Homo sapiens: one gene and its partner. The protein of the gene in region 2 purifies or fractionates together with the protein of the main gene of each other region. This does not show direct contact. Each region holds a gene or a part of one and is shown on either strand. Other genes may lie near its edges. The genes, in order: OTUD7B and N4BP1.

The links.
Region 1: the proteins of N4BP1 (region 2) and OTUD7B purify together in Homo sapiens (affinity purification with mass spectrometry, with the first as the bait; one large-scale study listed by BioGRID). This does not show direct contact.

Annotation. Positions count from the first base shown.
Region 1 is NC_000001.11:149,944,702-149,948,515, forward strand, and holds part of OTUD7B (OTU domain-containing protein 7B), read right to left. Parts: intron 2,635-3,814; coding exon 2,550-2,634; coding exon of another isoform or gene 2,523-2,549; intron 365-2,522; coding exon 1-364. UniProt on the Homo sapiens protein: Negative regulator of the non-canonical NF-kappa-B pathway that acts by mediating deubiquitination of TRAF3, an inhibitor of the NF-kappa-B pathway, thereby acting as a negative regulator of B-cell responses.
Region 2 is NC_000016.10:48,603,573-48,607,386, forward strand, and holds part of N4BP1 (NEDD4-binding protein 1), read right to left. Parts: intron 1-3,814. UniProt on the Homo sapiens protein: Potent suppressor of cytokine production that acts as a regulator of innate immune signaling and inflammation.

The DNA of each region.
Region 1 (3,814 bases), on a different chromosome or scaffold from region 2:
TGCCACCCTTCCAGCTCTTCAGTGAGTTTTTCTTCTTCTTCTCCAGTGTCTCAGTGCCGCTGCTTCCTCCCAACCCTGTCCCCACCCCTCCAGGCTTTGAACCCTTGCTGTGCATCAGGCCCCCCATGTTCTTCTTGAGCTTGCTGCCCAAGGTTTTGCCAAAGCTGCCCAGTTTGTTAGCCACAGAATCTGCTCTCTTCTTGTCCTTCTCCCGATCTCGCTTTGACTTCTCCTTCCGCCGGCCGCCCTCGTTGCTGGTGGAACTGCTGCCAACTGACTCCTTGTCTGAGTCTCCAGACTCAGGAGTGGACCGGGGCTCATCTCCAGCTGAGGCGGTGGGGGACTCAGGCTGGGCCAGAGGAGCCTGGAAGAGACAAGAACACTGTTGACAGTTATCCCAGCAGCCTGGGGTGGGGGAATCCCCCAGGGACCTCTAGCCCATCCATCTGGCTCAGGGAGCTCCCTGCAGCCATGGCTATAGAAATTAGCCAGGTAGAAAAGGATGGACACCTATGAACTCCGTCCTCTGAGTGATTGCCTAGTGACTGCCTTGCTCCAGAGAAGGGCTTCTGTCATGATGAGGGAAGGGTCACCCAGGATGGCACTGTCCTTCCTGGGTTCCAGTCAGTCAGCTTTCTCCCCCACTGCAATCTGACTCCCTTCTGTAATAAGGAGATAGTAGAATAAAGCCTTACTGTTCATTTAGAACAATGAGCAACCATATGATACGTGGCTTCCGGGTGAGAGGCCCAGACATTAGAATGTTCTTTATTATACATTTCTCTATGCCAAATTCTGCTCGAAACTAATCTCAAGAAAGTCTTGACTAATCAAAACTAACCAAGTCTAGCCACTTTGCATCCCCTCAACTTTTATACATTCTGCATTGGAGTTATCAATTTGACCCTACTCCTGTGCTCCTGTTCTAACTCAGAGCCCACTGAATTAGGAGCTCTTTAAGCTACTCCGTCTCCTAGTGCCCAAAACAGAGGTCTATCTACAGAAGACTTTGGACGAAATAATGATCATCTCAAGTTCAACAAACAGTCCAGAAAACCTTTCTTAAAGAATATGTTAAGCCAGGCACGGTGGCTCATGCCTGTAATCCCAGCACTTTGGGAGGCCGAGGTGGGTGGATCACCTGAGGTCGGGAGTTCCAGACCAGCCTGACCAACATGGAGAAACCCCATCTCTACTAAAAATACAAAATTAGCCGGACGTGGTGGTGCATGTCTGTAATCCCAGCTACTCAGGAGGCTGAGGCAGGAGAATCGCTTGAACCCAGGAGGCGGAGGTTGCAATAAGCTGAGATCGCACCATTGCACTCCAGCCTGGGCAAAAAGAGTGAAACTCCATCTCAAAGAAAAATAATAATAATAATAATAATATGTTTTAGGTCAGGCGCGGTGGCTCACGCCTGTAATCCCAGCACTTTCGGGGGCCAAGGCAGGCGGATCACAAGACCAGCCTGGCCAACATGGCGAAACCCCATCTCTACTAAAAATAGAAAAATTAGCTGGACATGGTGGCGGGCACCTGCAATCTCAGCTACTCGGGAGGCTGAGGCAGGAGAATCGCTTGAACCCAAGAGGTGGAGGTTGCAGTGAGCTGAGATCGTGTCATTGCACTCCAGCCTGGGCATCAAGAGCAAGATTCCGTCTCAAAAAATATATATATGTTTTAGTATCAGATAACAGAGACTGGCTGGAGAGGAGATGTGGAAAACAGGAGACTAACGGTTTTTAAAAAGCAGGAAAGGGCTGGGTGTGGTGGCTCATGCCTGTAATCCCAGAACTTTGGGAGGCCAAGGTGGGTGGATCACCTGAGGTCAGGAGTTCGAGACTAGCCTGGCCAACGTGGTGAAACTCCGTCTCTACTAAAAATACAAAAATCAGCCGGGTGTGGTGGCGCACGTCTGTAATCCCAGCTACTCGTGAGGCTGATGCAGGAGAATCACTTGAACCTGGGAAGTGGAGGTTGCTGTGAGCCAAGATTGTGCCACTGCATTTCAGCCTGGCTGACAGAGCAAGACTTCCTCTGAAAAAAAAAAAAAAAAAAAGGACAGGAAAGGCCAGGCGCGGTGGCTCACACTTGTAATCCCAGCACTGTGGGAGGCTGAGGCGGGCAGATCATCTGAGGTCAGGCATTCGAGACCAGCCTGGCCAACATGGTGAAACCTGTCCTCTACTAAAAATACAAAAATTAGCTGGGCGTGGTGGCGCATGCCTGTAATACCAGCTACTCAGGAGGCTGAGGCAGGAGAATCGCTTGAACCCAGGAGGCGGAGGTTGCAATGAGCCAAGATTGTGCCATTGCACTCCAGCCTGGGTGACAGAACAAGACTCCATCTCAAAAATAAAAATAAAAAATACAATAAAAACAGGAAAAATTGTCTTTGGAACTTATCTGACATCTTCTAGTTACTTCTAACCTTGAATTGTAAGCCACCACTCAGAATAGATTCAGAAGGAAACCATCCCAGATCTCCTTGTTCTGTCACTGAAAATGAAATGAAGACACACCAGGGTAGATGTGGGAGAAGTCTTCACCTGTGCATCAGAGGACAGTGGGATCCACTTCACATTCATGTAGCTATGCAGCAGATGCAATTTGACCTCTAGGGACAGAATTACACTATGAAAAAGAGAAAAAACAAATTACTGTCACCTTTTAAAAGCAAAGCAATTTGATATAGTTGGGAGAAAGGGTGGGAGAGGGCTACATGGCTTAGGACTCAAATAGGGTTGGGTTTGAACTATTTCTCCACCAATTAATAAGCTTTATGACCTTGAGCAAGTCACTTCAACCTCCCTGAAACTCAGCTGCAGCTGAGAATGGGTATAGATAATATCTATCCTGTAGGGTTGTTGTAAAGATTAAAACAGTGTTTGGAAAGAGCCCAGCACAGTGTCTGGAAAATGGGAAATACTAGATAGTAGCCATTATCATTGTTGTTGTTGTAAATATTATTTAGAAGGAGCTTTTGATAAATAGGTGAGAGGTTATTTTTAAAAAGCCATAAACTCTGGATTTTAAAATCAAACTCTCTTAGCTGGGACCCAGTGGCAGGAGCCCAGAGAGTGAAGCACTAGGTAAGTGCTAAGGGAGGAGCTTTTGCATTCATACACTCTCCATCAGGAAGTTGATGCAGGAGGCAGAAGGAAGGCTTAACAAGCCACAGGGAGGTAGAGTGGGGGCTGAGAGGGTAGGGAACATATTTTTCTTGCTATTAAATTCCAGAAAGGCAAAAACTCAGAGCAAACTATTTTTATCACGTATTTATTTATTTATTTTTTGGATGGAGTTTCACTCTTGTTGCCCATACTGGAGTGTAATGGTACCATCTCAGCTCACTGCAACCTCCGCCTCCTGGATTCAAGTTATTCTCCTGCCTCAGCCTCCCGAGTAGATGGGATTATAGACATGCACCACCACGCCTGGCTAATTTTGTATTTTTAGTAGAGATGTGGTTTCTCCATGTTGGCCAGGCTGGTCTCAAACTCCCGACCTCAGGTGATCTGCCTGCCTCGGTTGCCTGTTCACTCTGATGGTGGTTTCTCCCAACATGCTGGGATTACAGGCATAAGCCACCGCACCCAGCCTTGATCAACTCTTTAAAACTCCTCTCACTTGGGCTAAGACATGTGATTTGATTATCCTGATTTTCTTTCTTTCTTTTTTTTTTTTTGAGACAGACTCTCACTCTGTTGCCTAGGCTGTAGTGCAGTGGCACGATGTCGGCTCACTGCAACCCCTGCCTCCTGGGTTCAAGCGATTCTCCTGCCTCAGCCTCCCTAGTAGTTGGGATTACAGG
Region 2 (3,814 bases):
CAGCATAGCACTAGCTCCAGATACTTCACATTGCCATCTCCTCTACTTTCTCACTTCTCTAAGATGTATGGAACACTTGTAGCTCACCCACAACTACTGAGGCACCCCTTGGCCCTCAGAGTCATCCTCAGAATTCCTTTACATCCAAGATTCTAAGCTCCGAAATTACTCTGATTACAACCTCCAGAATTCTCCAATACTTAACTTCCCTGTGTACATGACCCCCTGGGTTTCAGAGGGCACAGGGTCAAAGGTCTTGTCCCTCCCTTAATCCTTGCAGCTCACTCCGCCCTTTCTGCTCTCATCTGTTTCCCTGTCCTAGCTTGAACAAGGCTGACCTCTTCAGAAATATTTCCTAAGCCCCACTGTGCCTTGCTCTATTGCACTTCAGACCCCCTTACCTCCAATCCTTGTGTCCTGGCTTCACAAACCTCTTGAGTGGAGGAAAACATTACCTACTTGAGAGTTTCTGGCTCAAGTGACACTGTAAGTTCATACTATCTAACCTTCCTTGGCCCTTACTTCATCCCAGTCCTTTTAAGTTCTTAAGTTTTCAGTCTGCAGCAGTTCCACTGCACCTAACACATCCCACTATTTTGGAGCTCTTGCGCTCCCTCTGGGGATGAACTAGCACTGAGACTGTACTGTACGCCACTGGGGCCTTCAAATGCCCTCTTCAAGTATTAGAAACATATGGGCTAGGCATGGTGGCTCATGCCTGTAATCCTAGCACTTTGGGATGCTGAGGTGGGAGGATCATTTGAGCTCGGGAATTCAAGATTAGCCAGGGCAGCATAGTGAGATGCCATCTCTACCAAAAATACAAAAATACACCATGGGCATGGTGGCACATGCCTGTAGTCCCAGCTACTCAGGAGGCCAAGAGGATCGCTTGAGCCTGGGAGGCAGAGGTTTCAGTAAGCTGAGATCATACCACTGCACTCCAACCTAGGGACCCTGTCTCAAAAAGGCAGTCCAAAGCTCAGGTCAAAAAAACAAAACAAACAAACAAAAAAAAACAAAAAAAGGTAAAAAAAAAAACAAAAACAAAAACTAAATTAAAACAAAACGAAACAAAGCTCAGGTCCACTGACATGTTTTGTTTAGCACATATAACTGTTTTTTTAAAATATGTAGTTTAAAAATATTTTATTCATATAATTCGATGAATTCGATGTGTATGATTTTTAAAATGTAAATTAGTGACCACTTAAATACAATATTTTATATAATTAAATCTGGATTCCTTGCTTCTCTTAGATAATAAGACTGGACATCACTGAGCCCTACCATGTAACTGACTAATGCGATACGCATGGGAAGCTGCCCTCTCCAAAAGGGCCACACGGCTTCATTCACCACAGTCCCTCTTCCCGACCACCCCACTTCCCTACACAGGTTCCCTGCCTGGTCCCAGGAAGCATTCTGAGTTTGTGGTTCTTTGATCTAAAAGAAGGGTTCTTTTTTTTTTTTTCTCAAGACAGAGTTTTGCTCTCGTTGCCCAGGCTGGAGTGCAATAGCGTGATCTTGGTTCACCGCAACCTCCGCTTCCCTGGTTCAAGCAATTCTCCTGCCTCAGCCTCCTGAGTAGCTGGGATTACATGCATGCGCCACCCCACCTGGCTAATTTTGTAATTTTAGTAGAGACAGGGTTTCTCCATGTTGGTGGGCTGGTCTCGAACTCCCGACCTCAGGTGATCAGACCACTCGGCATCCCAAAGTGTTGGGATTACACAGGCGTGAGCCACTGCGCCCGGCCTAAAAGAAGAATTCTAACTCGTCTCACCCCCACGGCTGAGATCCCCTCAACCTCATCCCTTTCCACCACTGCTTCACAGGGAGGGTCCCACCTCTGCTTCTTCACTTTAATCTCTATTTGCGAATGAGGCAACAGCTAGCCAGTACCTCCCTTTTGTCTCTGAAATTCAATCCTCACAATCCTTTGCTCCCAAGATGTCTTCCAGCACTGACTTCTTTCCCCTCTCTCTGGGCCCCCTATGGACAATGCCCTCTTATAAGGACTTCTCACTCTTAGACATTGCCTCTCTAGCCCCTGTATTAATGCCAAATTGCATAAAAGTTACTCAACCCTTATTTTCAATTTCTGTACTCTTACTATTGAAAACCAGCAACAGACCACACTGAGCAGCCCCAGCCCAGAGGTGTAAACACTGAGGCATTTGTGGAAATGTAAATTTCTCATGTCCCCCTAACTCTTCCACGACTCTCCACTGACTACTTGCAGGTAAAATCCATGTTCTTCAGCAGGCCCCAAGCACTTTGTGATCCACTGGAGGAATCTGTGATGCAACTGCCCTCTTCCATGCCCCTGTGATTGCACACAGCTTCTTCCCTCTGCCAGGACCTCCCTGCTACCTAGGAAACCGGCTGGCAGAGCAACCCTTCCATTCCTGTGTTACAGAAACACCTTGCACACATTGCAGTTGTTGTATGTATCACACTTTACTGTATCTTCCCCATGTCTGTCTCCCCTAAGAGGCAACGTGATTCTTGAGGTCAAGGGGCAACCGTCAATACACTCCCTGGCACCAGAGAAGTCTTCCTTAAATGTTGATGAGCTGGTGGCCCCACCAGTCAATAGGTCAAACAACTTAACCATCCCTCCTGCCACCTGGCTTAAAACCGACCCCTAAATCCCTACATCCACCACACAGCTGCCCTGTCCCTGTAAAAACCTTACCACCCCCTACCCCCTCATGCCCAAGGCTAACTTGCAACAATGTTCATTTCACTGTTGGTCTTCTGTTTCAGGAAGATTCCATGCTTCTCAAAATCCTCACTGACTATTAAATAAGGTCCAATGACCTTAGCCTGGCATTTTGGTACCTCAGCCTTCATCTTTCCCAGGAGCACCTGGACACCTTTTACCATGACACTCCATGTTTTCTGGGCCTTTGCTCCACAACCACCTCTGTCTGGAAGGTCAGGTACCTGGGAATATTTGGCTCTTCAAAAGCCAGCTGAAGTACTGCTTTCTACGACAAATCTTCCCTTTAACAAAAGTGGTCACTGGTACAGAGTCAGTGCCTGTTTTTCAACCTGCATGCGCACTATCACTGTCTACTAGTAGTTTCCATTTCGCCCCTCTGCAGTCATTGGAGGCCCACCTAACTAAGCTCCACATTCTTCTCTACTCTAGCATTTGCAAAAGGCAGTGAATTCACATTTTAAAGGCAAAACACAAGCAAACCACTTGGTGGGACACAAGACAGTTCATCTTATCTTATTTTGAGCAGAGACACTATAGTTGAAAAACTCTTCTTTGCTCTAAATCTTCCTTCCTCTAAATCTGCTGCTCTTCCACAGCCTAACTTAAAATATTATAGATGTTGGATCAAATTTGCTTTCCTGTTCTTAGTTTTTAAAATCAAAATAATGGTTTTCTCCTCCTTCAAGAAAGTAAAACAAACTCCAAAACAAATTCAGAACAAAAAAGCCCTGATTGTGGCATTCAACTCTTACCTATGAGTCTCAAGGGGAGAAAAAAAAGAATTTCTTACAAGTGGGAGGGTTGACTTATGAGTAATACATATCACAAAGATCAACAAGCAGGAGCACATACTAGCAAGAAACTGTAAGACACACCTTTCCCAAACAGCTTGGCTAAACTGTGTGGCAAGGACAGCCAAGAAAACAGGCATTGGGCAGGTCTGGCAGGACCAGCAGGGCTCTTCTGCATAGCAAAGGAGTCATTCTCCATGCTTGCGATGAGTCTTGAGCAAAAGCAGAACCCAGAGGAGGCAGAACGCACAGCAAAGGCAGAGACTACTACAGTGGAGATTTAAGCTGAAAG